Linked DNA regions of Homo sapiens. The protein of the gene in region 1 interacts with the protein of each later gene in a biochemical or structural test. Each region holds a gene or a part of one and is shown in the gene's direction. Other genes may lie near its edges.

What was found.
Region 2: of the proteins of ELN (region 1) and MMP7, one has a biochemical effect on the other in vitro, tested with the Homo sapiens proteins (one study listed by IntAct).
Region 3: the proteins of ELN (region 1) and NID2 form a complex in vitro, tested with the Homo sapiens proteins (one study listed by BioGRID).
Region 4: the proteins of ELN (region 1) and FBN2 form a complex in vitro, tested with the Homo sapiens proteins (one study listed by BioGRID).

What each region holds. Positions count from the first base shown.
Region 1 is NC_000007.14:74,059,147-74,066,172, forward strand, and holds part of ELN (elastin isoform a precursor), read left to right. Parts: exon of another isoform or gene 1-721; coding exon of another isoform or gene 722-739; coding exon 740-901; intron 902-993; coding exon 994-1,038; intron 1,039-1,229; coding exon 1,230-1,355; coding exon of another isoform or gene 1,356-1,454; intron 1,455-1,954; coding exon 1,955-1,993; intron 1,994-3,063; exon of another isoform or gene 3,064-3,134; intron 3,135-4,006; coding exon 4,007-4,078; intron 4,079-4,163; coding exon 4,164-4,223; intron 4,224-4,474; coding exon 4,475-4,549; intron 4,550-6,547; coding exon 6,548-6,586; intron 6,587-6,797; coding exon 6,798-6,851; intron 6,852-7,026. UniProt on the Homo sapiens protein: Major structural protein of tissues such as aorta and nuchal ligament, which must expand rapidly and recover completely.
Region 2 is NC_000011.10:102,520,723-102,527,748, reverse strand, and holds part of MMP7 (matrilysin preproprotein), read left to right. Parts: intron 1-76; coding exon 77-225; intron 226-2,684; coding exon 2,685-2,813; intron 2,814-4,347; coding exon 4,348-4,509; intron 4,510-6,944; coding exon 6,945-6,973; 3' UTR 6,974-7,026. UniProt on the Homo sapiens protein: Degrades casein, gelatins of types I, III, IV, and V, and fibronectin. Activates procollagenase.
Region 3 is NC_000014.9:52,010,044-52,017,069, reverse strand, and holds part of NID2 (nidogen-2 precursor), read left to right. Parts: intron 1-1,794; coding exon 1,795-2,016; intron 2,017-2,613; coding exon 2,614-2,783; intron 2,784-5,386; coding exon 5,387-5,516; intron 5,517-6,022; coding exon 6,023-6,194; intron 6,195-6,375; exon of another isoform or gene 6,376-7,026.
Region 4 is NC_000005.10:128,535,235-128,542,253, reverse strand, and holds the start of FBN2 (fibrillin-2 precursor), read left to right. Parts: upstream 1-4,008; 5' UTR 4,009-4,650; coding exon 4,651-4,904; intron 4,905-5,769; coding exon 5,770-5,852; intron 5,853-7,019.

The sequences.
Region 1 (7,026 bases):
AGGCATGAGCCAACGTGTCTGGCCTACAAAAATCTTACAGAGTTGATTTTATTTTTCCCATTTTACAGATGTGGAAACTGAGGTTCCCAGAGCTTAAGTAACTTGCCTACAGTTGCACAGCTAAATGGTGGCTGAGCTGAGATTTGAACCCAAAGCCTTTCTGTCTTACAAAGTCCCTTATATAATGTAAATCTGCCTCCATCAGCCTCAAATCTCCAAGGGGTCCTTGTCACTGAAAAGGTTAAGAACTCCTGGCCAAATGCAGCAGCTCACAACTATAATCCCAGAACTTTGGGAGGCCAAGTCGGGTGGATCACCCAAGGTCAGGAGTTTAAGACCAGCCTGGCCAACATGGTGAAACCCTGTCTCTACTAAAAATACAAAAAAATTAGCCGGGCATGGTGGTGCGCACCTGTAGTCCCAGCTACTCAGGAGGCTGAGGCAGGAGACTCACTTGAACTCGGGAGGTGGTGGTTGCAGTGAGTCGAGATCACGCCATTGCACTCCAGCCTGGGCGATAGAGTGAGACTCTGTCTCCAAAAAAACAAAGTTATGAACTCCTGAGCCTGCACACACTTCATATTAGGGAGGAGGAAGCTGAGGCCCAGCAAGGGAAAGTAACTGATCCAGGGTCACACAGCAAATCTATGCCAGGGCCGAGGCTCCAGCCCTCTTTCCATAAGCTTCTGTCCTCTTTGATCAGGTCTTGGTTAATGATCAGCTCTTCTCAATCTTGCAGGGTTAGTTCCTGGTGTCGGCGTGGCTCCTGGAGTTGGCGTGGCTCCTGGTGTCGGTGTGGCTCCTGGAGTTGGCTTGGCTCCTGGAGTTGGCGTGGCTCCTGGAGTTGGTGTGGCTCCTGGCGTTGGCGTGGCTCCCGGCATTGGCCCTGGTGGAGTTGCAGGTGAGTTTCATGAGTCAATGAGCCTGAGGGGCCCCCGAAGCCTCCATGGGCCCCGCCTCCATCTCTAATCCCCCTCTCTCTCCCTCCCTCAGCTGCAGCAAAATCCGCTGCCAAGGTGGCTGCCAAAGCCCAGCTCCGTGAGTGCCTCGCCCACCTTTCTCTCCTCTCCCCAACGATCTCAGAGCTGGTTAGGGGCAACAGCCAGGGAGGAGGCCGCTGCTTGGATCTGGGCCCCTTCCTCTGGGACTAGGCTCAGCTCCCTGGGCAGGACACCTCCTTAGGGGCATGCTCCCTGCCTGCTGTCGCCACCACTGCCCTCTGTCTGCAGGAGCTGCAGCTGGGCTTGGTGCTGGCATCCCTGGACTTGGAGTTGGTGTCGGCGTCCCTGGACTTGGAGTTGGTGCTGGTGTTCCTGGACTTGGAGTTGGTGCTGGTGTTCCTGGCTTCGGGGCAGGTGCAGATGAGGGAGTTAGGCGGAGCCTGTCCCCTGAGCTCAGGGAAGGAGATCCCTCCTCCTCTCAGCACCTCCCCAGCACCCCCTCATCACCCAGGGGTGCATAGTAAAATCCTTGTTAGGTTCTCCTAAGCATCTGGGGGTAACAGATAGCGGGAGGAGGGCAGACCAGGCCAAGGGACCCCAGGCTGCCCAATTGCAGAGTATCTGCCTCCTCAGTAGAGGGGTGGCAGGGCTCCAGACTGAGAAAAAGCCTGCCCTCCAACCAGGGAAGGAGCAGGTAGATCAGCCTGGCTCCCCTTCAGCAGTGCTCTGTGGCCAGGGGACCACTAGGAACTCCAGTTCTTCACCAGCTGGTGACTGAGCCCCACTCTGTGCCCAGCCTCAGGCAGTCCATGCTAGGCCTGGGGAGAGAAGGAAGGGGCAGACGGAAGGTGGAGGCACTGTTCAGCCCTAAAGCTCTGTGCCTGTACAGCTTCAGGGCTTTGAGGAAGCAATAGAGGCCAAGGAAGTCAGGGAGGGCTCTCTAGAGGAGGCGGCAGAACTCCCAGGCACAGAGCTCGGCTCCTGACCACTCCCCAACTTTTCTTTCTCCCCAGTACCTGGAGCCCTGGCTGCCGCTAAAGCAGCCAAATATGGTGAGTGCACCCCACAACCACTTGTGGCTCCCTTGCCACCACACCATCCCTGACAGCACAGGACTGGGGTGGTCACAATAGAAAAAGGCAGTTTCGGCCGGGCGTGGTGGCTCACACCTGTAATCCCAGCACTTTGGGAGGCCGAGGCAGGCAGATCACCTGAGGTCAGGAGTTCCAGACCAGCCTGAACAATATGGTTAAACCCCATCTCTACTAAAAATTCAAAAATTAGCCAGGCGTGGTGGCGGGCACCTGTAATCCCAGCACTTTGGGAGGCCGAGGTGGGCAGATCAACTGAGGTCGGGGGTTCCAGACCAGCCTGACCAATATGGTGAAACCCCATCTCTACTAAAAACACAAAAATTAGCCAGGTGTGGTGGCGGGCACCTGTAATCCCAGCTACTCGGGAGGCTGAGGCAGGAGAATCGCTTGAACCCAGGAGATGGAGGTTGCAGTGAGCCGAGATCACGCCACTGCACTCCGGCCTGGACGACAGAGCGAGACTGTATCTCAAAAAAAGAAAAGAAAAGAAAAAGAAAAAGGCAGTTTCTAGGACACGTTTATGACAGTTTAAAAACCTGGCCCCTGCCCACTAAATGCTTATGGTGCCTTCAACCCCTGTGACCACCAAAAACACCCTTGAAATCCCAGTTGCCCCCCAGGAGGCAATTCCACCATCCCTAAGCTTGCCCTGACCCTGACAGTTACATGGTCCCTGTGTCCAGGAAGGGACTGGGCCTGCTGTGGGTATGAGGAGTCTGGGCAGTCTCTGCCTCCACCCCAGCTCTCTGGCCCGAGCAAAGGAGCTGGTATTCCTCATCTGGGCACCCCGGGCCCCCGCCCGCCTTCCTGTCCTGCCAGCAGGACCGCTCCCACCACGAGCCAGCCCAGAGGACGTGGCAGTCCCACAGCCTCTGCACTTGGCGCTCTGGCAGCCCTGCCTGGCCAGACCCACGCTGTCTGTAGCCCCTGAATTCCTGGCCTCCTGTGAGCAGCGTTGGTGGGAGGTGGAAGACTCCCCCAGGGATCCACCAACCAGCCGGGCAGGTCCACTTGGGGCCAGTTTCTACCTCGGAAAATCCTGGCTTCCTCAGCGCCGACCCCCAGCAGCCCTGGCCTCCTCCCCTGCTCACTGCTGACTGCTTGGCAGGCCTGAGTCAACAGACATTGCCAGGGAAACAGAGTGACGTCATGTGGTGGAGCCGCGAAGGGCGCAGGCTCCCCAGCCACTTCCCGTCCCTGAAGCCCTGAGCACACTGCTTAACCTCTGCTCTGCCTCAGCGTTCTCATCTGCAAAATGGGAATGACAATAGTGCCTACCTTTCCTGCTGCAATGCATAAAAAATGGGCTGCTAAGTGTGAAGCACTCAAAATGTTAAGTGCCTGCTGTAGATACTATTACCGTTGTTTGTTTGTTTGTTTGTTTGTTTTGACAGAGTCTTGCTCTGTCGCCCAGGCTGGAATGCAGTGGTACGATCTTGGCTCCCTGCAGCCTCCATCTCCCGGGTTCAAGTGATTCTCCTGCCTCAGCCTTCCAAGTAGCTGGGATTACAGGCGCCCGCCACCACGCCTGGCTAATTTTTGTATTTTTCGTAGAAACAGGGTTTCACCGTGTTGGCCAGGCTGGTCTCAAACTCCTGACCTCAGGTGATCCACTAGCCTCAGCCTCCCAAAGTGCTGGGATTACAGGTGTGAGCCACCGCACCCGGCTTACAAAAGAACTTTTAAGGCCAGGCACAGTGGTTCACACCTTCGGGAGGCTAAGGCAGGAGGATCGCATGAGCCCAGGAGTTGGAGGCTGCAGTGAACTATGATTGTACCACTGCACTCCAGCCGGGGTGACAGAGCAAAACCCCATCTCAAAATGAAACAAAATATGGACTGGACTTCCTGTCCACTGCTCCTCCACAGTGTCACATGGCCCCTGCCACCTGTCTGCTTGCCTTGTGTCCCTGGGGCAGGGAGACCCATCGTTCAGAAATGGAACACTCATTTTCCCTCCTCTCCCCGCAGGAGCAGCAGTGCCTGGGGTCCTTGGAGGGCTCGGGGCTCTCGGTGGAGTAGGCATCCCAGGCGGTGTGGTGGGTGAGTTGAAACCCCAGGAGGGGCAGGGTGGGGAGGGAATCTAACCAGTACAGAGTGCCTCCCTGAACTCGGTCTGTGTTCCCAGGAGCCGGACCCGCCGCCGCCGCTGCCGCAGCCAAAGCTGCTGCCAAAGCCGCCCAGTTTGGTGAGCACTGGGTGGAGGTGGGAGCTGCCGCCAGGCCCCCAGGCCCCCAGGGTGTGGGAGGAGCTTCTGACCAGGCACTGTAGACTCAGAGTCCCTGCCCCAGACACCTCCTGGCTCCACTGTGCCATCGAAGGCCAGGGGAGACCTCAGGCTCCACCTGTGTCCCCAGAGGACACCTCCGCCCTCCACAGGCCGAGGCTTCAGTCCCACCTTTCTGACCAGCGGAGTCTAATGCTCAGCTGTCTCCACAGGCCTAGTGGGAGCCGCTGGGCTCGGAGGACTCGGAGTCGGAGGGCTTGGAGTTCCAGGTGTTGGGGGCCTTGGAGGTGAGAGTTGTTCTGAAATCAGTGAGTGTGTGTGGTGTGTGTATGCGAGACAGAGATGGAGACAGAGACAGAGACAGAGACTTTCGTTCCCACCCCTGGCACGTCTTTGCTCAAGATGTCCTCTTGGCCAGGTGCGGTGGCTCACGCCTGCAATCCCAGCACTCTAGTAGGCCAAGGTGGGCGGATCACTAGAGGTGAGGAGTTTGAGACCAGCCTGGGTGACATGGCGAAACCTCATCTCTACCAAAAATACAAAAATAAGCCGGGCGTGGTGGTGGGCACCTGTATTTCCAGCTACTTGAGAGGCTGAGGCCAGAGGATCGCTTGAGCCCAGGAGGCAGAGGCTGCAGTGAGCTGAGATGGTACCACTGCATTCCAGCTTGGGCAGCAGAGTGAGACCCTGTCATCTAAAAAAAAAAAAGAAAGAAAGAAAAGAAAAGAGGCCAGGCATGGTGGCTCACGCCTGTGATCCCAGCACTTTGGGAGGCTGAGGTGGGCAGATCACGAGGTCAGATCAAGACCATCCTGGCTAACACAGTGAAACCCCGTCTCTACTAAAAATACAAAAAATTAGCTGGGCGTGGTGGCAGACGCCTGTAGTCCCAGCTACTCAGGAGGCTGAGGCAGAAGAATGGCGTGAACCTGGGAGGCGGAGCTTGCAGTGAGCCGAGATCGCGCCACTGCACTCCAGCCTGGGCGACAGAGCGAGACTCCGTCTCAAAAAAAAAATATATATATATATATATATATGTATGTATGTATGTATATAAATTAGCTGGGCATGGTGACACACGCCTGTAATCCCAGCTACTCGGGAGCCTGAGACAGGAGAATCACTTGAACCCAGGAGGCAGAAGTTGCAGTGAGCCAAGATCACGCCGCTGCACTCCAGCCTGAGCAACAGAGCAAGACCTCATCCCAAAACAAAATAAAAACAAGAAATGTGGCAAACGGGAGCTGGGGCTATCCCTTGCCGCCAGGGTCCCAGTCCTCCCCCTCTCCTCTCTCTTTCAACCCACCTGACCACTGCGGTGGGAGTAAATTAGGAGAATGATGGTTATGCCAGTTCTCCAAGAAAGAAATCAAAGCTTGGAGAGAAATTGCTTTCCCTAAGTCTCCACCATGGTGGCCGACCTTGTGTGGCCATTTCCCCCTTTCTTGGGCTGTCATTGTGTCTCCCCCTGTAAACTAGCCTGCACAGCTCTTCCTGTGAGTGCCACAAGACCAGACACACAGTAGGAGCTTAACAATTAAGACTTTTGGGGCCGGGCATGGTGGCTCATGCCTGTAATCCCAACACTTTGGGAGGCTTAGGTAGGTGGATTGCTTGAGGCCAGGAGTTCAAGACCAGCCTGGACAATGTAGCAAGACCCCCCCCCACCACCACCTCTACGAAATATTTAAAAATTAGCTGGGCGTGGTGTGTGCCTGTAGTTTCAGCTACTTGGGAGGCTGAGGCAGGAAGATCACTTGAACCCGGGAGTTCAGGGCTGCAGTGAGCTGTGATCAAGCCACTGCATTCCAGCCTGGGCAACAGAGCAAGAAGCTGGATAGATGAAGGAGAGATGGGGGGATAGACTGGGAGGATGAGTCCATGGGCAGACGGTAAAGGGTGAGTAGGTCAGAAGACAGGGCCTAGCCAGGTGCAGTGGCTCACACCTGTAATGTCAGCACTTTGGGAGGCCGAGGCAGGTGGATCACCTGAGGTCAGGAGTTCGCGACCAGCCTGGCCAACATGGTGAAACCTGTCTCTACTAAAAATACAAAAATTAGCCAGGCGTGGTGGTGGGTGCCTGTAATCCCAGCTGCTCAGGAGGCTGAGGCAGGAGAACCGCTTGAACCCAGGAGATGGAGGTTGCAGTGAGCCGGGATCGCGCCACTGCACTCCAGCCCAGGCGAAGGAGTGAGACTCTGCCTCAAGAAAAAAAAAAAAAAAAAAGACAGGGCCTGACAGGTGGCATTGGCATTCCTGAGCCGTCATGTGCCTCATCTCCCCAGGTATACCTCCAGCTGCAGCCGCTAAAGCAGCTAAATACGGTGAGTTCCCCTCTGATGCCTTCCTGCCAGTGGCCTGCACCCCCTGCCATGCCCATCGCCACCCTCCCCCAGCCCAGCTCAGGCCTCCCTCTGGCTCCCCCTACCCCTGAAGATCTTGTCTGGGACATTCCTTAACCCAGAACCCAGCAGGGATATCAGGGCCTCTTCCCGATGGGGGTGTCTTATCCTGACCCCACCTGCCTCTTCTCAGGTGCTGCTGGCCTTGGAGGTGTCCTAGGGGGTGCCGGGCAGTTCCCACTTGGAGGTAGGGGTGGCCAGCTCTGCTACGTAGTCCTCAGCTCTGTCCCGATCTAGAGGGGGCCTGTCCATCTAGCAGTGGGGACTCCCAGAGCCCATGTCCACACAAGGACAGGAGACTGGGGCTGGTGAGGGCACTTTAGGATTGCAGATGTACTGGGCAAACGGGCAAGCTATAAGGT
Region 2 (7,026 bases), on another chromosome or scaffold:
TGCTCTGGCTCATTTTGGCAAAAACAATAAAGCCTGTTTCCTAGGGGTCAAACATTGTTTTCTTGTTTGCTACTAGGATCGTATCATATACTCGAGACTTACCGCATATTACAGTGGATCGATTAGTGTCAAAGGCTTTAAACATGTGGGGCAAAGAGATCCCCCTGCATTTCAGGAAAGTTGTATGGGGAACTGCTGACATCATGATTGGCTTTGCGCGAGGAGGTAAGAAAGATTCCTGTAGGCTAATCCTGTGTCCTGTTTTGTTTGTTCATGGTTTATATCAGTGCTCTTTTCTTATGAAGATTAAAATCCTTTAATGAGATATGATTGGTAGATAGATAGTTAATAGATAGATTTAGCAATATTATTATAATTTTTATAATCTGGTAATATAGAGCCACTTTTTATAGCAGCAGTTGGCAAACTATGATGCATGAGCCAAATCCAGCCCACCTTCTGTTTTTGTAAATAAAGTTTTACTGGAACACAGTCAGGCTCCTTCATTTCCCTATTACCTATGACTGTTTGGGCTCAGGCTGCAACTGTGACAGAGATCACAAAGCTTAAACACTTGTTATCTGACCCTTTACAGAAAAAGTTTGCCAACCCCTGTTTTGTAACGTGAATTATTATTTATATATACAGTCATGCACTGCTTAACAATGGGAATACACTCTGAGAATGAGAACTTTGGCAATCTTGTCACTGTGCTAACATCATAGAATACACTTACACAAACCCAGGTGATACAGCCCACTATCCACCTAGGCTACATAGTATAGCCTATTGCTCCTAGGCTGTAAATCTATACAGCATGTTACTATACTGAATACGGTAGGCAACTGTAACACAGTGGCAAGTATTTGTGTGTCTAAACGTATTTAAACATTGAAAAGGTAATGTATTGAGCTATGACATTATCACAACTACTATATCACTAGGCTATAGGAATTTTTCAGCTCCATTATAATCTTATAGGACCATTGTATATGTGATCTGTTTACTGAAAGATCATTATGTAGCACATGACTATATGTTTACAATATATCTACCTAACATCGATATTAAATCAACAGAAAGAGTCGCAGCTTCCAAAGGCCTCAAGAGTCCCCTGAGAAGTGGTATATGACCTGTTGCTAATGCCTTTCATGTGGCAAGGAAGTAGGAAATGGAAACTTTCATATTAAAGAACTTAAAAATATATAACACAGCAGGGTGTGGTGGCTCACGCCTGTAATCCCAGCACTTCGGGAGGCCAAGGCAGGTGGATCATCTGCGGTCAGGAGTTCAAGACCAGCCTGGCCAATAGGGTGAAACCCCATCTCTACTAAAACAAAAATTAGCTGAGCATGGTGACGCATGCCTGTAATTCCAGCTGCTTGGGAGGCTGAAGCATGAGAATCGCTTGAACCTGGGAGGCAGAGGTTGCAATGAGCCAAGGTCACACCACTGTATTCCAGCCTGGGCAACAGAGCAAGACTATGTCTCAAAAGAAAAAAAAAAAATATATATATATATATTTTTTTTTTTTACGTGGGTTTTTCTATATGTAAAACCCATTTTTTTAGTATATGTGTTATATATGTGTGTGTGTGTATATATGTATATATAAAACCCATATACATAAATTGTTCTTAATTGCTAGTGTTTCATGGTGCAAATTTAGAGAAAAATGTTGCCCATTTCAGTCTGTTCTATGTGGAATGGTCCGGCTACTGTAGCTGAAATTTGAACTTCAACCCACAATATTGACAACACCGAAGAAAATGTTATGGGAAAGCACTAATCATGGCACTACAAGTTTTTTAAGAGCTAGATAAACTGGACTGGCCTCATATCACCTCGAAGATAACCAGCTCTGCATCACACATTAAAGGACTATAAAAAGCCATTTTAAGAGATCTTGAGCATGGCTCTCTAAGAGACTATTTACTATGCCCACGAAGAATAAGCTAGGTTTTTAAGAAAAAAAAAAAAAAAAACCTATGAAATGGTGCACAAATTACTTGCCAAATGTGGTATTCATATTCATTCTCCCTCCCACCACCCTTTGGCCGAGCAAAGTGGTCAAATTTAACAAAAGCTTAAATGCAACCTTAAGTTAGATATAACTGCATTTTAAGTCCTGTATCCAGTAAGCTTTCAATATATGGTGATTATCAGTGATGAGCAATGGTTCTGTGAAAGGAAAAGTGTCTGGGCCAAGAAAGCACCCAAACTACCCTGTGAGTGCAACCGACAGCACATAACAATGTCAGCTACTTGCACTGGGCTGCCTTTTTTTTTTTTTTAATTTATTTTTTGAGATGGAGTTTCACTGTTGTCACCCAGGCTGGAGTGCAGTGGCGCGATCTCAGCTCACTGCAACTTCCGCCTCCTGAGTTCAAGCAATTCTCCAGCCTCAGCCTCCCAAGTAGCTGGGATTACTACTTGGTGGCATGTGCCACCATGTCCAAATTTTTGTATTTTTAGTAGAGACGGGGTTTCACCATGTTAGCCAGACAGGTCTCAAACTCCTGACCTCAGGTGATCCGCCCACCTCGGCCTCGCAAAGTGAGCCACCATGCCTGGCCTGGACTGGGCTGCTTTTTCTAGCCTCAATAATCGTATAAACTGAAAAATAAAATGACTGGAGAAAAAAAAAATCAGTCACTAAGAACAATCACTCCATTTTCTTTCAGCTCATGGGGACTCCTACCCATTTGATGGGCCAGGAAACACGCTGGCTCATGCCTTTGCGCCTGGGACAGGTCTCGGAGGAGATGCTCACTTCGATGAGGATGAACGCTGGACGGATGGTAGCAGTCTAGGTATAGCATCTCATGTCTCTTCTACTCCACATCCGTTTTAAAATCCTGGACTTACACTAAGTTAAATAATTATATTAATTTATAATAAGTATTGAGCCCTTGCTAAGTGCCAAACACTGTACTATATGCCTGAAATGCATTATTTCATGTAATATACTCATAATGCTACACACAGAAGATGGACACTCAGGCTATGGAGTCAAGCACCACTGATCCAATTTGCTGTACGTCTACCAATTACTCTGTGTCATTGGGCAAGTTATTGAATTTCTCTGAGCCTCAGTTTCCTCCTCTGTGGAATGGAAATATAAATAGTTCCCACATCAAGGAGTCTTTAAATTAAATGAGATAATGCTTATACAGTGCTTGGAATGTATTAATAATTAATTAAATTATAGCTCTTTCTTCATATTTCCAAAAAATACATGCCCCAAATGGAAAAGAAAGAGAAGTAGAAACTATGATATTTGAGAAGTATATGCAATTCTGGAATTATTCACTATTTTCCAGAAAGAACCAACTCCATGATTTAGTATATCATATTTATCATTTTACATAGTAGGATATTATAGGCACATGAGAGAACTAATGGAGAAGAGCTCTGGCATAAATAATCCCAATTAGAGACAATTTTTTTAAGGCTACCAACTGGCCCTAAAAGGGAAATTTGTACTTGTGTTTGGCAAAAGGAATTCACCATAGCTTGCTGTCTTGCTGTGAAAATCTATGTTAAATTGTGATGCTGCCTCCCATTTGCATCTGGCATATTCTTTTCATTCTTCTTTCTTCCCACTTAAGGTAGGTTAAAGGCAGCTTCCTTCAATTCAATGCAACGCCACCAGAGCTCAGGCCACTCCTCAAACGCACGGGCTCACACCTTCCACATACTTGCAAAGCCTTTCAATGAGTATGAGGGAGAACAAAGGATATATGTAATACAAGTTAATGAATCAAAATCAAAAACAAAGCCCAGCATTGCCTAGAGACCCTGCCTTTCAATCTTCGCTTTCTCAAAGCCACCATTCTCTCTTCTGATATCCAAAGTCACTAACATTTATTGAATGGCCGTGACTTCCCAAATATTGAGAAACTCTAGCTATCATGACAAATCTAGAGGGCAGAAATTACTGTCTCTGTTTAACAGATGAGAAACTGAGACTCAGCAACATCAATTAATCTGTCCAGAGTTGTCCAGCTAGTAAGTAGTGGAGCTACATTTCAAACCTAGGTCTTAGTGCTTTTAAAACCTTTGCTTTCCACTGCAGAGTATTGCTGCCTGAATGAAAGAAGCAAATAAAAAAAATTACACATTTTTAATAAGCAGAAGTAGTGATGAGATTAAAGCACTCCTATTCTGATTAACCTTCTAACCCCTCTCCACTTTTGAAAGCCTAGAAACAAATAAGTAAGCTACCGTGGGCTAAAACTTGGGTATTTTTCTTTAGTTTTTTTAAATTATGATATCATATATATAATATTACATAATGTATGTAGCTATTTTTATCATTACTGTTTGTCACTTCTTCGGTTGTAGGGATTAACTTCCTGTATGCTGCAACTCATGAACTTGGCCATTCTTTGGGTATGGGACATTCCTCTGATCCTAATGCAGTGATGTATCCAACCTATGGAAATGGAGATCCCCAAAATTTTAAACTTTCCCAGGATGATATTAAAGGCATTCAGAAACTATATGGTAATATTTATTATTTCAAATAAGAGGATTTCCCATTTTCTTTTTAGAGTGGGGTAGGAAAAGAAAGGCTGGGAAATGGGTATTTACCTGGAAAACCACACTGGAACTCATATCAAAAAGCCTATTGAGGGGAGGAATTGGGGACCTTAGATACTTAAAATATAACTAGGCTGTAATATACTATGAAGATGTTGATTGTGAGTTTCAGTAACATAGTATCATGTGGTAAAATTATGCAAATGATATTGTCCAGATTTTCTTCAAGCTGCCACCCACTGCTCTTCCTCTCTCAGTTTAAATAGTTTAGGAGAGTGTCCCCTGTAGGGGTGGACTGAAGGGACAAAACACCTTTCTTCATAGCTGCCCACTCCTAAGGATTCAATCCTAGATAATTATAAGTGACCCTGCTCTTCCTGTTTGCACGTACATGTAGAGAAAGCGGTTAACCACGGACAGAAACTGCTTATCATTCCTGGTCTTGATACTTATGTATATCCCTTGCCCCAGTCTATGCTTTTTTGGTTTAATCAAGTTCCAAATTCAGTTTTTTTAAGTGCACTGATTTGGATTTACTGTATTGAGTCAGCCAAAAGTAGTATTTGAGAAAGAAATCAAAGGACAAGAATAAAAAGCTCTGTCTCTGGATAAAGATAAGGAAAGTAAGATTCAAAGAGGCTAAGTGGACTGTCCAAGGTCATGTGACTGTCGAGTGCTTGAGCCATGATTCCAAGTGAGGGCTATGTGACTTCATACTTTTTCTACGACATATTCCTGCCTATCACTACCCAGTAAGCTTTTTATCCTAGTAAGAATAAAAGAATACAGAATGACATCTTTAAATCAGCAGATATAACTAAACCTAGCCAGTAAAAATATCAGGATGAAGAGAATACACTGCAAAAAGATCACTTAAGATTCTTCAAATGATCACGTGAGCAATGAAAGTGCTTCCACATAATAGAGGACTGTCCTCAGGGGAGAAATATTCCAGTAAGACACTGGATTTAAGATATCAGTTCAACCTAGCATTTGCTATAAATCAGCATGTCCCAAACTGTATTCTCAGAACACTAGTCCTACAGGGTGATTCCCAGAAAAGGAGGCTATGGAGAAATAAGTTCAAGAAACACTACCTACTGTATTTCAGGTGTATAGACTATTAGAGAGTATGGAGTATTGAACAAATGTTTAACTCAGTGTTTCCTAAATTATAATCCTTTTTATGGGTCTCAATGAGTCCCATAAACTAGCACTTCAGAGAACACACTTTGGAAAATGCTGTGTAACTATTCCCAAAAGTTACGACGTAAAGAACCACTGCTGTCCAAAAGATTCACAAAATGCTGACTATTGTTCGTAAAGTTATCATGAACAAAACTGAAAATACTATCCTCCCCTTACATAAAACTGTGGAACTCATGGAATATTCTATAGCAGTCTATAAATATTTTAGAACCCTAAGAAAAATACAAAGAGACTAAAGAAGGTCTGAGGCATGCTGATTAAATTTAACAGGAAGAAAAGAGACTAGTGCATTAAAACCTTAAGTATTAGACAAAAGGGCATCTCTGGTCAGAGTTGGAAACAAGTAACTTCTGGACAAATGGAAATAGAATTTAATTATGTGGGCTGTATATGTAGGGAGTTAATCTAAAAAGTAATATGAGCAGAAAACATAGATTCCAAAGAAAGTGATTAAGATACAAGATTCCTAATGCTATACTCAGAATGATAAAAATAATAGCTGGCTGGGCGCGGTGGCTCACGCCTTTACCCAGCACTTCGGGAGGCCAAGGTGGTTGGGGATCGCTTGAGGCCAGGAGCTCGAGACCTGGACAACATGGTAAAACCCCATGTCTACTAAAAATACAAAAATTAGCCGGGCGTGAAGGTGCATGTCTGTAGTCCCAGCAACTCAGGAGGCTGAAGCATGAGAATTGCCGGAACCCAGGAGGCAGAGGTTGCAGTGAGTCAAGATCACACCGCTGCAATCCAGCCTGGGCAACAGAGTGAGACTCCATCTCAAAAAATAAATAAATAATAGCTAACATGCATTGAGTACTTGCAGTATCCCAAGACTTCACATGGATTAACTCATTTAATTCAAGAATTCAATGAGACATTATTATCCACATTTTACAGATTTGTAATCTGATGCTAAGAGAGGTTAAGTAGTAAACTACCTAAGGTCACACATCTAGTAAACTGGTAGAAACAAGATGCAAAGGTACCTGAGCCCTGGGCCCACACTCCAGTCAATCCTGCCTTCTTAGCCTCTGGAGGTTGTTCTTCAGAATCTTTGTCCCAGGGACAAGAAATGGTCTGAGTGAATAATAGATTATACTTTCTGTGACATTTCCTTTGCCTGTATAATCTTAGGATGGTTTTTATGCATTTTCTACATATCAGAATGTTCTTTTTTTTTCTCTCAATAGGAAAGAGAAGTAATTCAAGAAAGAAATAGAAACTTCAGGCAGAACATCCATTCATTCATTCATTGGATTGTATATCATTGTT
Region 3 (7,026 bases), on another chromosome or scaffold:
ATTTCCCTCTCTGTGTTCCTTGAGACACATTTGGCTGAAGAAGTCAGAGTCTTACCTTCTCCACGGGGTCTTAAAAAGAGCTTTGTCTCCCATGGGTCATGAGCTACAGTGACAACTTAACGGCATTCGCTTCCCCCAATTCTGGTGAGTCGTGCAGTTGAGCTAGAGCTAGTTGGGTTTGAGCTCTGACAACTTCATTCGCAGTCTTTTGTGTTCCAAGAGGAATTGTAGGTGCTGGAACCTGATCATAATGCTCCCAGCTTTGTTCTTTAGAGTCACTGGAGGGTTTTGAACGGAGTGACATGAAATGCCTTTATGTTTAAAATGGGCCATTCTGGCTGCTGCTAATTGAATTTACACTGGTTTTGGAGAGAGTGAGGGCATAGAAGGGTGGAAGCAGGAAAACCAGTGGGAAGGCTGTTGCAGAAATTGCAGGGAGAGGATGAGGCTTTTTGACCAGGGTGAGGGGGTGCAGTAGTGAGAAGTAAAGATATTCTAAGTGGATTCTGAAGTTACCCCTAAAAAGAGTTTTTGACATATCAAATGTGGATGGTGAGAGAAAGGAGGGTCAAGGATAATTAGGTCTGAGCAGTGGAAAAATGGAGGTGCCATTTACTCATATGGGAAAGACCAGGGGAGCAGCTGGTTTGATGGTGAAGGCAGGGGCTCAGTTTCTATTAGTTTCTGATTTCTATTATACATCTAAATGGTGGTAGCAAGTAGGGTTATTGGCTATGTGATTCTGCAGACCATGTGCTTTAAGTTGCAGGAATTAAAAAGGAAGGAGAAGCACCTCCTCTTGTTTAAGTTCCTTTGGGTAGTCCTAACATAAATGAACAAGTTATCTCAATAACCTTCTGCAGCAGAGTCTTCTCAGAACAACCTGTATTTTGGACAAAGCCTCAATGGCACTGTGGAAGCAGCCTGGGAGGAAACTGCTTTGCAACCAAAGCCAGCAGGACTTCAACCATGGAGTGAGCTGTGAGGGAGGGGACAAGAGGAGAGGATGCTGGAGAAAGGGGGGGAAAGGGCAACACGGCAGGAAGCTAGAGCCTGCAGGAAAAGATTCAGCTTTGAGATAATCCCAGGCGCAGGGTGGCTAAAGCAATTCTGGAAACTGGGCTGTGGAAGAACCATTTTTAAGCTGTTTGCCACCACCTCTGCTATGCTTTACTACTAATTCCACTCAGTTTTACCTTTACTCCATGTAGTTTTCCAGTGGGTAGACAGAGGGCACCGTGGCGCTGGGCTTTCAGTAATACTTTCTAAGACACACACTGGCCAGTCGCAAGATGGCCCTCTCCTCAGCAGCTTCGAGCTTGAAGCTTGAAGCAAGTGGGGAATGAATACAAATTGGCTTTAAGCATCACCTCGGCTACTGAGTCCCCAAGGATCACCTGCACAAGTGCTCTGTCAGCAGAGGCGCCCGAGGTACAGGCAGGATGGGCCTTGTGGGCCTCTCCTGGCCAGAAGGAGATCATGCCCCTTCCCAGGCTGAGTGAGCTGCACTGCTGATCTTACCTCCTCTTGTTCTTTCTTGATGTGGCTGGGCCTTGATGACAGACCCTCCTGGCAAGAAAGAAGCATCACATGATCTATTTCTGATTCCCATGGTGGAGAAGTACTTAGAACACATTTGCTTCCCAAGTTTGGTGTCCACGGGCTTGGCTGAGACCTGGACAGTAGGAGAAGGAAGGCCAGGAGGCCAGGCATGGGGTCTTGAGCTACATTTTGCATTCTGTCCTTGACTCACAATCAAAGGTTTTTCTTCTTCCCTCTTCCCCATCTGCTCAGAGCCCACCCAGAGGCCCCCGACCATCTGTGAGCGCTGGAGGGAAAACCTGCTGGAGCACTACGGTGGCACCCCCCGGGATGACCAGTACGTGCCCCAGTGCGATGACCTGGGCCACTTCATCCCCCTGCAGTGCCACGGAAAGAGCGACTTCTGCTGGTGTGTGGACAAAGATGGCAGAGAGGTGCAGGGCACCCGCTCCCAGCCAGGCACCACCCCTGCGTGTAAGCACCTGGCCGCCCCCGCTCCCCTCAGCTGTATCTAAGGCCTTTGCTAGGGATGGTGCCTGCTGTGGTGAAGTGGGGGGACATGTGGGGTCACCAGGTCTAATGAAAGAAGTCACTATGTGCTATGTTGATTTATAATCTGGTCCACACAAGATCCCAATTTGCGTTTGGTGTCTGGTTTTTGTCATTAGCAGCTTCCATAATTGGAACATCTGCAACTCGGTTCAGCAGGCAGTTACTCCCCCTCCCCAGCCCAGGGTGACAGGGGACACGTGTCACTCTGGAGTCCTAAAAGGAAGCTGACACAATGCTGGCTCTGTTTTTTTTTTCTCTTGAAAAAAAAATCTGTTCTGCTTTGTTCTGAGGGAAGTGTTTTGCTGTCTTCTTCCCTAGTAAATGGCAGATTTACATAATTGATCCTTAAAAAAACCCTAGAAATTAGAATTTCTTTTGAAGAACATCTGGAGCACATCTGCGTAGGGCGAAGAACTTTTGATATTTTTGGAGGCTCTGGTATGTGGTAAAGTAACTTTTCTTCCCATCTCCCTGCCTGCCCTTGTTCCCCTTCCTGCTCTCCCACCCTCTCTCCCACAGGTATACCCACCGTCGCTCCACCCATGGTCCGGCCCACGCCCCGGCCAGATGTGACCCCTCCATCTGTGGGCACCTTCCTGCTCTATACTCAGGGCCAGCAGATTGGCTACTTACCCCTCAATGGCACCAGGCTTCAGAAGGATGCAGCTAAGACCCTGCTGTCTCTGCATGTAAAGTGGATTTCTCCTGTAGGGGGCAGGGCTGCGTGGCTTTCCCAGTGGGAGCCACCTCACAGGCCCTGTTGCAGTGAGGTGGACTGGTGCAGGGAAGTCCTGGAGGGTTTCTGAGCTGCAGCCCATCGGCATGGGCCCGATGCCACCACCATAGGACCAGGGCTCTCTCTTGCTGGGAGTCACCTGTCACTGACCAAGGCTGTGCTCTCTGGTTCGTTCATGGAGTTTCAGATAATATGGAAAGGGAACTTTAGAGTTGTCAGCACATGGAGGCTGTATGGTGATCCAAGGGAAAATGGACCGACTCTTACCCTAAGTCCCCAGGGTTGTATGTCATAACATCTCCATGGAAATCCTGGAAATCAAAGTGACAGGACAACTAGTCACAAGGTGTGATCTCTGCGGTTTGTTGGGGACTCCAAGTGGAAGTCAGTTAATGACTGTCTCACCGTTGCAGCCCTTCCCTTTCACTTTGGTTCTGTCCCTTTGACCCACTTCTTTCCTAACCTTCCCTGACTCCATAGATGAAAACTTGAGGAGTGTGTGATGCTGGGAGAGGAGTGGATGGAGCCTTCCCCAGGGGATGTTTGATGCTTCCTGAGCCAGCAGCCTCCCTAATGCAAGGCACCCCATTTTGGGGAGCGGGTTTTCTCAAAAATGGAGGAAAAAAAAGGGTGGCTGTCTCGAATGGCATCGACACAGTGGAAAATCATCTGATTCCATTGTTGAACTTCACACTCCAGGCACTTGCTCATCCCTGAGAAAGAATAGTACGGCATTCAAGTTTACATTTACTTCTGTTAATGAACGACACTTATTTGGTTCCAGAAAAGCTTAGAGGCAGCCAGTGTTTAGGAAGAGATGTGTTCTTTTTAAGATTCGAGTTTGTTGGGTCCTGTCCCCTCCCCCAAGAAAACTCTCACATTGTTTTGTAAAACTTTCTCTGGAAGAGGTAGAGACTAAGAAGTTGACATCACTTTAAGCTAACCCTCTTTTATTCAAGTCATAGAGCTTGATTGCCTTTCTGAACATGCCCCTGACCAGGACAGGGTGGTGATGGTAGTGGTAGTGGAACTGAAAGAAATGGGACGTGGGTTATTTGCACATTTTAAGGAAATTTACTTAAACTGGGACTTTTTCTCTAACCTGAGGTTATGACATGGGTTTATGAATCCCATGATTCCCGGGTTAATGGAAGCTCATTTGAATGTGTACTCTTGCCTGGGACAAACGACTTTTCAATTTTCAAATAAAAGTGTAGTTGACCTTAGGCCCGCCCCCCATATAAGCTGCCTGTTTTTCCACTGAAGCCAAATCCCGTTTTGTACAATCTTTCTTGGCTGACTACGCTCCCAGGGGGCGTAAGTGAAGCCAAGCCCCAGGAGGCTGTTAGGCAAGGCAGGAACTTGTATGACCTCAGGGACAGCCAGCTAACCCCTGAATGTTGGCTTTGCACATCTGCTGGGCTTCTCAGAGCAGGAGCCTGGATTGGAAACTGAATGAAGCAAGTTCTGCATGGAGTTGAGGAAAAATATCAGACTCAGCATTTTTTTTATTTTTATTATTTTTTTAAAAGACTTGTCATTTATTTAGCAATGAGGAGGAGAGACCTCACTAGCCAGAGGTTGGATAACCACTACTCCCTAGTTCCTTAACCCAATAAATTAGATTTTTTCCTTCTTTTGAGACAGGGTGTAGCTCTGTGTTGCCCAGGCTGCAGTGCAGTGGCACCATCTCGGCTTGGTGCAGCCTTGACTTCCTGGGCTCAAGCGATCCTCCCAACTCGGTCTCCTGAGTAGCTGGGACTACAGGTGCGTGCCACCATGCCCAGTTCATTTATTTTTTGTTTTTTAGACGGGGTCTCACTATGTTGCTCAGTCTCGAACTCCTGGGCTCAAGCAATCCTCCTGCTTTGGCCTCCCAACGGACAGGGATTACAGGCGTGAGTCACTGTGCCTGACTACACTTTCTTTAGTACAGGATATAACCAACATCTTGCCTCCTAAGAGTCAGGGGCAGGAGTATAGGTGATTGTACTTCAGGTAGAGGAAAGATCTCATTCACAGAGGAGGGGAGAGTAGATTTTGTTGGCATATAGTGGCAAATTTTATTAAGGCTCTGGGAAAAGTGCTGATGACATTGGGAAAAGATTCAGTTTTTACCCAGTAAAATATTAAAAACTTATTTTGCTTAAGGCCATGTCCTCTAATTACTGAAGGGGCTGATTTTTTTTTTTTTTTAAATCATCAGTCATAATAGCACCTATTGAAGGGCTTACTGTATGCCAATTACTGATTAGGACACTTTACAAGCACTTATAGTATTAATTTTTATAGCAACCATATGAGGCAGGTACACTATTGGCCTCATTTTGCAAATGAGACAAACGCATAGAGGTTAAATGCCCAAAGCCACATGGCTACTAAGTGGCTGAGCCTAGATTTCACCCGAGTGCCCACATGTCCAGCTACTCTGCTCTGTTGCCTGCAGGATCACAGTGCAGTGTTGCTCACTGCAGCTGTGCATGAGCAAGGCAGCTGAGTGTGAACAAAGGGGAAATGTAACCTAATTCTTCTAATTCTATGATTTGATGCACAAAGGGCTCCATAATCGTGGGAATTGATTACGACTGCCGGGAGAGGATGGTGTACTGGACAGATGTTGCTGGACGGACAATCAGCCGTGCTGGTCTGGAACTGGGAGCAGAGCCTGAGACGATCGTGAATTCAGGTCAGCAGCTTCACTCAGCAGTCTGCATTTCATTTGATTCTACAAAGTCACTTGTCTACTTTACGCCGAAGTCTCCCCTCGATTTTTCTCCATTAGGGGAGGTTAAGTTCTAGGCAAGTCATTTTATTGAGCTGTATAAGACTAGCCCCCTCTGTAAGCAAACACCTTCATACATACGGAATGAAATAGGTGATTCCTACTGTGCGCACTTCTTAAAAGAATTCATGGTAAGAATTCAGGGTGACGCCTTCGTTTATTCAGCCTGGCTCTGGCACTGTGGATGCCGGTTGTCATCAAACTGGTAGGTCTGCTGGTCTAGAAGCTAGAGGTAGTGGAATATGTAACAAAAGTACTTGTTTCTCTATTAACCTGGTTCTTGGGGACTTGGAGACACTTGGGCTTTGCTTTCCCCTGCTGACCCCCCTGCCCACCCGACCGTTGGAGGGCTTCAGGTTTGCCCTCCATATCCTGCAAACACTCCAGTCCTGACTTTGCTTTATTTCCAGGTCTGATAAGCCCTGAAGGACTTGCCATAGACCACATCCGCAGAACAATGTACTGGACGGACAGTGTCCTGGATAAGATAGAGAGCGCCCTGCTGGATGGCTCTGAGCGCAAGGTCCTCTTCTACACAGATCTGGTGAATCCCCGTGCCATCGCTGTGGATCCAATCCGAGGGTCAGCTGGGCTTCCCTAATTCTTCTCTTACCTGTAGATCCTGATGTGAAGCCCTTGGGTTTTAAATACAATGTGGGGAAGGTCAGAACAAGAGAGTGAAAGCTCAAATGCATTCATGTAACAAAGATTTACTGAGGATCTAAGAGGTGTCAGGACCTGTTCTAGGAAAAGACAAGGTCTGTTCTTTCATGGCACTTATATTTTATTAGGAGGAAACAAGACTGGTATAAACAATATTAGTCTGTGATGTGATATGTAGAAAATTCAGATAGTGTTGTGAGAACTAGGGCTACTCTGAATCAAATGATCAGGCGAGGCCTCAGCTGACACTTAAACTGGAAGTGAAGTGGGATTCCTCCAGCAGCACATTTAGAAACCAGGGTTGACGCTCACAGTAGGGCTGACCTACATCAAGTGACATTAGCCAAAGCTCAGACACCTCTGGCTTCAGTGTTGCTGTAGCAGAAATCAAGATAAACATTTTCCCTGTCTGTATAATTGCTAAGGTCATCAAATGTGACATACAGGATTTGTTCACTGTCTCAGTACTTGTTACAATCAGGGAGAATTTTTATATCTTGAGAAACTCTTGCCATGTTTAAGTGGAGTTTCTACGAAATGAAATTCCCAGATGCCCTTCAAATCAGTAAAGAAAACCTTCAGCTTTAATTTTCAGGTAAGTGCTTTTTGACTATGAAATACTTAGTGCAGTGCCTCAAAGGTGGTTTCAAACTTTGGGTTCTACACACAGGAAAAGTACCTGTATCCTTCTCTATTCCAGTTGACTTAACAGGAATTAATAGCCCTCTTAAAAACTCTTTGCATAGGCTTG
Region 4 (7,019 bases), on another chromosome or scaffold:
ATTTCATAGGTGGTCTGTGTACCTCCTATTGCACCATAAAAATAAAAACATAATGTCTGGTTGTCTTACTTTTCATAAGTTAATAATTAATCAGTAGGTTCTGGTGGTAACAGCTTGACACATTCACTAAAAAGTTCCCAATTGACTTTTTGATGCACGGCTTCCCAAGTAAATTTGTATTTTGGACCAGATAATGCTTTGCTATGGGAGACTGGCCTGTACATCGTAGAATGTTTAGCAGCATCTCTGATACTCTCATCACCACTCCCACACACTGTCTTGTTGTGACAATAAAAAATGTCTCCAATTACTGCCAAATATACCCTGAGGAAAAATGGCCACAAGTTGAACACTTCTTACCTAATGGTTTTAGCAGTTGTTAAAAACCGTTGCCTAGGTCCATTATTTTATTAGGGTTTACAAGTAGTGATTTTTCTAATTCCATCATTCCTGCATTTACAACTGTGGTTTTTTTTTTTTTTCAAAAGAAATACTTTCTCTGGGTCTTTCTAGCAAAGGAAGAATAACTGGTTAATAATTTTATTTATCGATGCGTTTAGAATAGTGAGCTGTGCCCTAACAACCTCCAAAAGTGGCCAACTAATTTTTGTTTGGAGTATCATTCGGAAATCTTGAATACTGACACACTTCATGTATTTCAATCTTTTGCTGTCATTTCTTTTTTCTTTTTGATGCTCAAGTTTCCCCATCCTTAACCAGCAAGATCTCTTTCAACTTAGCTCAGGTTTCCTTTTGACATGACCTTAATAGTCAGATAATTTCTTGCTTTCAGGCATGACAAGACAGATAGTCCAGATTCACTTTATGCATTTCCTTTCCCAGACTTAGAATCTGCCACTCACCCAAGGAACCCTGATTCCTTTAATTTAGAAATGGTATTTAGGAACCACAATCTGGTCACAATGACCTTATGGTTTTTGGGTTGTCACTATTTCTAGGTCTTTGGAACATAGTTCCAAAGCCAGAACTATAAAACTAAGTTTATTTAGAAAGGTTTAGCTTCCACCATTGTTTCTTTCCTCATAGTCTCCCCTTTCTCTACAGATAACCATTTTTTATTAGATTTAGTTTATACTTCTTGTTTGTTGTTAAATCTATAACACACTCATACCCCTAAAAAGTAGCATACAATATTATACAGCTTTCATTTAAAAAATATTGTAAAAAATAGACATAACATAAAATTTACCATTTTAATCATTTTTAAGCGTGCAATTCAGTAGCATTAAGTACATGCACAATGTTGGACCACCGTCACCATTATCCATTTCTAACTTTTTCATCATCCTAGGCAGACCACTTTGTACTCACTAAACAATAACTCATCCTTCCCATTTTCCTGGAGCTCCTGGTAACCTTTATTCTACTTTGTCTCAATGAACTGCCTAGTCTATCTGTACCTTGCTTTTTTTTTATTTTAGTAGACTGTATATGCTAGAGATCACTCTCTAAGAGCATACAGAGTTTCTCTTCATTCATATTTGACAGCTGCATAATACTTCACTGAATAGATGAAGTCATACACAACAGTTGCTTGTTCATGGGAAGTTTGTGTTTCTAGTCTTTCACTATTATAAACAGTGCTGCAAAGAACAGTCAAATGTATGCACCATTTCATTTTTTTTTGTCTATGTATCTTTTATATAGGTTCCTAAAAGTGGAATTGCTGGATCAAAGGGTAAAGGCATAGGCAATTCTAGAGCATTTAGATTTAATGTGATGGACAGGAATGAACCATGAAGCCACGTAAGTATTAAACAACAGCAACAACAACAAAAAAAGCAGATACAGGATGTTTTAAATGGTATGACTAAAACACTGCTTTAAACCAGGAGATAGTTACATTAGTTAGCTCTTTTAGTTTAAATAATTTTATTATTTGAAGCGAAGTACGTGAAAATAACTGTATTGCTCTTTCTCTGGATTTTAACAAATCGGTGTCTCACATGAAATTATGTAACTCTTATCTTTTCTTCTGCTTTATGAGAATACTGTAACAAGGGGTACTACCTTCAGACCCTTTGACTACATGGAGAAATAAAGGAGGGAGTTGTGCCAATTACTGGAGAATTTTGGCTGTCAAATAGCACATCTGGGCAATTTGGGCCAGAAATACATATATATGATATATGATATATATATGATATATGATATATATGATATATGATATATACGATATATATGATATATGATATATATGATATATACGATATATGATATATACGATATATATGATATATATGATATATGATATATATGATATATATGATATATATGATATATATGATATATATGATATATGATATATATGATAGATCATATATGATCTATCATATATATCATATATCATATATCATATATATGATATATATGATCTATCATATATATGATATATCATATATGATCTATCATATATATGATATCATATATATGATATATGATATATATGATATATGATATATATCATATATATGTTATGTGTATATATGTATATATGTACGTGTATATATATACACACACACACACACACACACCCTCCTATACATATTCAACATTTTCCCCTTTAAACTAAGGTTTTCTAGGCTTGAATAAACCAGACACTGCTCTTTTGTACTGTTTCGCAAACTGTGCTTGGATGGTCTCTCCTTGTTTTCAGGAGTGTTTGATTTTTAAATTGTGATATTCCACTAAATGAGAAATGACCAGGACTTCACAGAGATTTCATGAAAGGAGGGCCACAAAGGAAGAACCCAGAGCAGGCCGGTGAGAGGCACTCTAAGAGGTACAGAGGGTTGCACCAATTGCTAGGATTTAATCAATCAGAAGGGGTCCAAGCCAGGAAGCAAGGGCATGCCCCGAGCCTCATTTACCCGCCTTGTCACCACCCTGCCCGCTAGTACATTTCAGAGTCTCTAACCCCTCCCTGCATGCAAGCCCAGGCAGAGTCCTGCCAGGTTTCACACCAGAGCACACCCCTGCACGGACTCCCCAGGACCGCGGCGCCGGCTGGCTGCCTCGGCCCCCCGCGGCCGCGTGAGCTCCCTCTTGGTGGTGGAGGGCGCATTTCAATCTGGAAACTCCCAGCCCCTAATTTGGTCCCGCAGACTGACGCCGCTCCCGGTGGGGCGGTGGGGGTAGGAGGGCAAAGGGGAGGTCTCCTCCTTCTTGGATTGAGGCTGCAACCAACAGCCCCGTGAGCCTCTATTCCTGGCTGACTGCGAATCCCCCCATCCCAGGTCAGGGGCCGGGACCCTACAGAAAGACCCGTTCTCATCCTCAACCTTGCGGCCTCTGTCCGGCGGGGAAGTTCAGCTGCGGGTCAGTTCAGCTGCGGGTCCGGCCAAGCCTGGCGCGCTTAGGCACCCTAGTCCCTGGTCCGCGGCCGGGCGAGGACGGAGGGGGAGGGGAAGGGGCTGCTGCCTCCTTTCCCAAATCCGGTCCCTAATCGCCCCATCCCCCGCCGTCTACTCGCTTTGTACAGGCAGTCAAAACAGAGCTAGCGGCCAATTGACGGGGACGGGAAGCAAAGCCGCCTAGCGCCTCGCCCCCTCCAGCCGGCCCCCCGGGCCCCTCCTCTCGGCGCCCGGACCTTGGCCCTCCCTCTCCTTTCCCACTTCTCTCTTTGCCCTAACTTCGCCCCCATCCCCCGCTCATTTCCTCTCGCACCCGGGCTCGCCAATCCCTCTTTCCAAGTCCCTCTTCCAGCCCGGCCTTCCTCTCGGGTTCGCCCCCCTTCTCCCCAATCTCCGTCCTCTTCCCTCCCTTCGCCCTCCCCCCCTTCCTTCCTCTTCCCCTCACCCAACCCTGGTTCCCCTCGTTCCTCAGTCCCGATCTCTCCCTTACTCTGTCCCCGCCCACTCTGCGCCGGCCTCTCAGTCCGGGTTGAGCCCCACGTGTGGACGGCCGCGCCCCCACTGACAGCCGCCGCCCGCCGGCCCGCCCCGCGCCCCGCCGGGCCTCTAAAACCCCCGCGCCGCGCCCTCCACCGCCGCATCTTCTCCAGCGCCCAGCCTCCCGCCCTCTCTCTTGCTGGCCGCACGCCCCGGCCCCGCGCACCTCCGCCCGGCTCCGCAGCCGCTACCCGCGCTTCGTTGCCCTGTGGGACTCCGAGCGAGCCCGGAGGGAACCCTCCTCTTCTTCTGGGGGCGACTTTTGTTTGCTTGCCTGTTTCTTTCTGGTGACTTTTGCAGCTTTCCAATATCCGTCTTCGGAGCGCACGGGAATCCGCCGAGCTCTGCGTGCAGGCCCTTTTTTCTTTTGAGGTTCACATTTTTTGAAATTTTACGCCAGGGCTTTTGTAATTTCCTCCCCCGCCCGCTGACGGTCCTGGAGTCGCTCGGGGCTTTAGGCCGGTTATGCAACGTGTACCGCTCGGGGCTGCCGGCTGCACCTCCGCCGCGCCTCGCCGCTCACTGCGCTAGACCCGGCGCCCCGCGTCTCGCTTCGCGGGCAGTCAGGGGGCCGGCGCTCTGTCGAGGTCTCCAGCTAGAGCAGGGAGCCCGAGCCCGAGGGAGTCCCCGGAGCCGACGAAGGGCTTATTAGACCCTGACTCTTTTCTGAGGCGCGCAGATTTTGTCTTTGATCACTCCCTCTCCGCGGGTCTACGGCCGCGCGCTTTCGGCGCCGGCGATGGGGAGAAGACGGAGGCTGTGTCTCCAGCTCTACTTCCTGTGGCTGGGCTGTGTGGTGCTCTGGGCGCAGGGCACGGCCGGCCAGCCTCAGCCTCCTCCGCCCAAGCCGCCCCGGCCCCAGCCGCCGCCGCAACAGGTTCGGTCCGCTACAGCAGGCTCTGAAGGCGGGTTTCTAGCGCCCGAGTATCGCGAGGAGGGTGCCGCAGTGGCCAGCCGCGTCCGCCGGCGAGGACAGCAGGACGTGCTCCGAGGGTAAGTGGGCAAGCGGCTCCGCACCTAGGGCTCCGGCTTGGGGGAGGGGGGAATCCTCAGTTTGGCGGCTTTCTGGCCCACTCCGTCCCAGACCCTTTAGCTGGAGCCTAGAGCTGCAGCCCCCTTTGCCAGAATATCCAAAGACCCCCAGGAGCGCGTCCCCCTTTTCCTTCCCAACCCCGCAGCTCAGCGGGCGGAAAGCCCTCTCTCCGGGGGTTGGGCGGCGGGTGGTTAGGGGGTCCAGGGGTGCCGATCGCAGAGCGTGTGCAGAGCTCGCGCTGCGGGAACAGGTTCTGAATGTCCGGCGGCAGGCGGGCCTGGGTCCGCCTGCTGCAGGGGCCAGAGAAGCCTGCTTGCTCCCCACGTCGGGGCCGCCGCTCGTGAGCCTTTTGTTTGAGGACGTGTGCAGGGTTCACAGCTCACCTTCTCATCGTCAACCCGAGCGCTCCACCTTGCGACGCGCTTTCCTTGACACGTCGGGGCCAAAGTAACAGTTGACCAAGGAGGAATGGATTTGGGAAGGAGGGCAAGGATTCTTTGGAACGGAATGGTCCCTTTGTTCTCTGCATCTGGAAGCTAGAATAGTAGCAAATTATATGTTTCCATGCCTCTTTTCGCCCTTTAAAAAGGCAGGCAAGGGACGACAGATGAAAGGCAGTGTTTAGACATTTCTGACCCTCCTGCATTCCAGCATCTAGCTCTTTTGCTTCCACGTCTGCCTCCCGATCTCCAATAATTTGAAGTGTAATTTTGATTTGTTTGTTGTCCTGAAATCTACTCGCTCGGGGCATTGCTTACGAAGACCGTTTATATGTTGCTGCATCCCTCTACCTATCTGTTACGTGACCGCGCTTGTCCATCACAGGCCCAACGTGTGCGGCTCCAGATTCCACTCCTACTGCTGCCCTGGATGGAAGACGCTCCCTGGAGGAAACCAGTGCATTGTCCGTGAGTGCTTGGCAGGGATCGCAGCTTGGGGCAGCGCACTCGGCCCTATCTCCGGCCGACCTCTTGCACTCAGCCATTTGGACGCATAGTTGCGTTTAAAATCAAGTGATCACATTGCACTGATAATCGGGACGCGGCCCCATTTGAATAGTGGGGAAGACTCAACCGGTTTGAGTCAGTTCAGACTTCACTTCTAGACTCTGTTGAAGGGCAATAATGATAAAGATTTCAAAGATAATTGAAAGTTTTATCTTTCTATGTCTATTAATACAAATTGGAAGAGGGGAGGAGTAGAGCAATTATCTAGATAACTCAAAACCACTTTTTCTGTAAAAAATCCAGATGAGACCACATGTTATTATGCAAATTATCAGGCTTTTAACTCTGCTTGAGGTTTGGGCCTTATGAAGATCAAGATTTCTTAGGCATTTATATAAAACCACTTTCTTATTTCTGGTTTTATATCAACAACCACATAACCTAGATACGAAAGGAGCATTCTCGCGGATTTAGTGTTGACCTAAGTTAACAAACTTTTAAAAGACAGAACTCTTACAAAGGGGCTTGAGTTTTTTTTTTTTTTTGCTTTTTGGAAGACGTTTAAATTTAGGGTTTCCAGACCCTGAACCTCAATAGTGTGCAGTAGATTTCCAAAGTATGAATCTTAGACCTTGAAAAATTCTGTATCTCTGACCTTAAAAGTTTTGATTATTTTATTCTGTTTCCAAAGTGTATAACCAGTTCTCCAAGTTCTAATTGGAGAGCTCATTAGTTATCAGCCTCACAGTCACGGACTCTGGGATGTCTTATTTCATATGCCTGTAAATTTGTGACTTGCAGTGTGACTGGCCTTCTCCTGTGTGTTTATGTAGCACAACCACATTTGTCTTGTTGGAAGGAGAGCCAGGTATCATAGACAGCACATTCATTTAGAGCCAGTCTTGACTTTAGATTGACCTCCATGTTCTCCAGGGAGAAAATAATTATGCAACTGTGAACAGAGAAAAAGGGCAAGGCACACTAACCAAGGGATAATAAGGATGTAGTGGCATTTCTAACTCTGTATTTATTGGTTTTGTGGTTTTGAGATAGATGCTTAATGTTATTTCTGGGCAGTTTTTAAAAAAGAGATGAAATCTCCAGTGTCATAAAGACTAATTTCTTCTT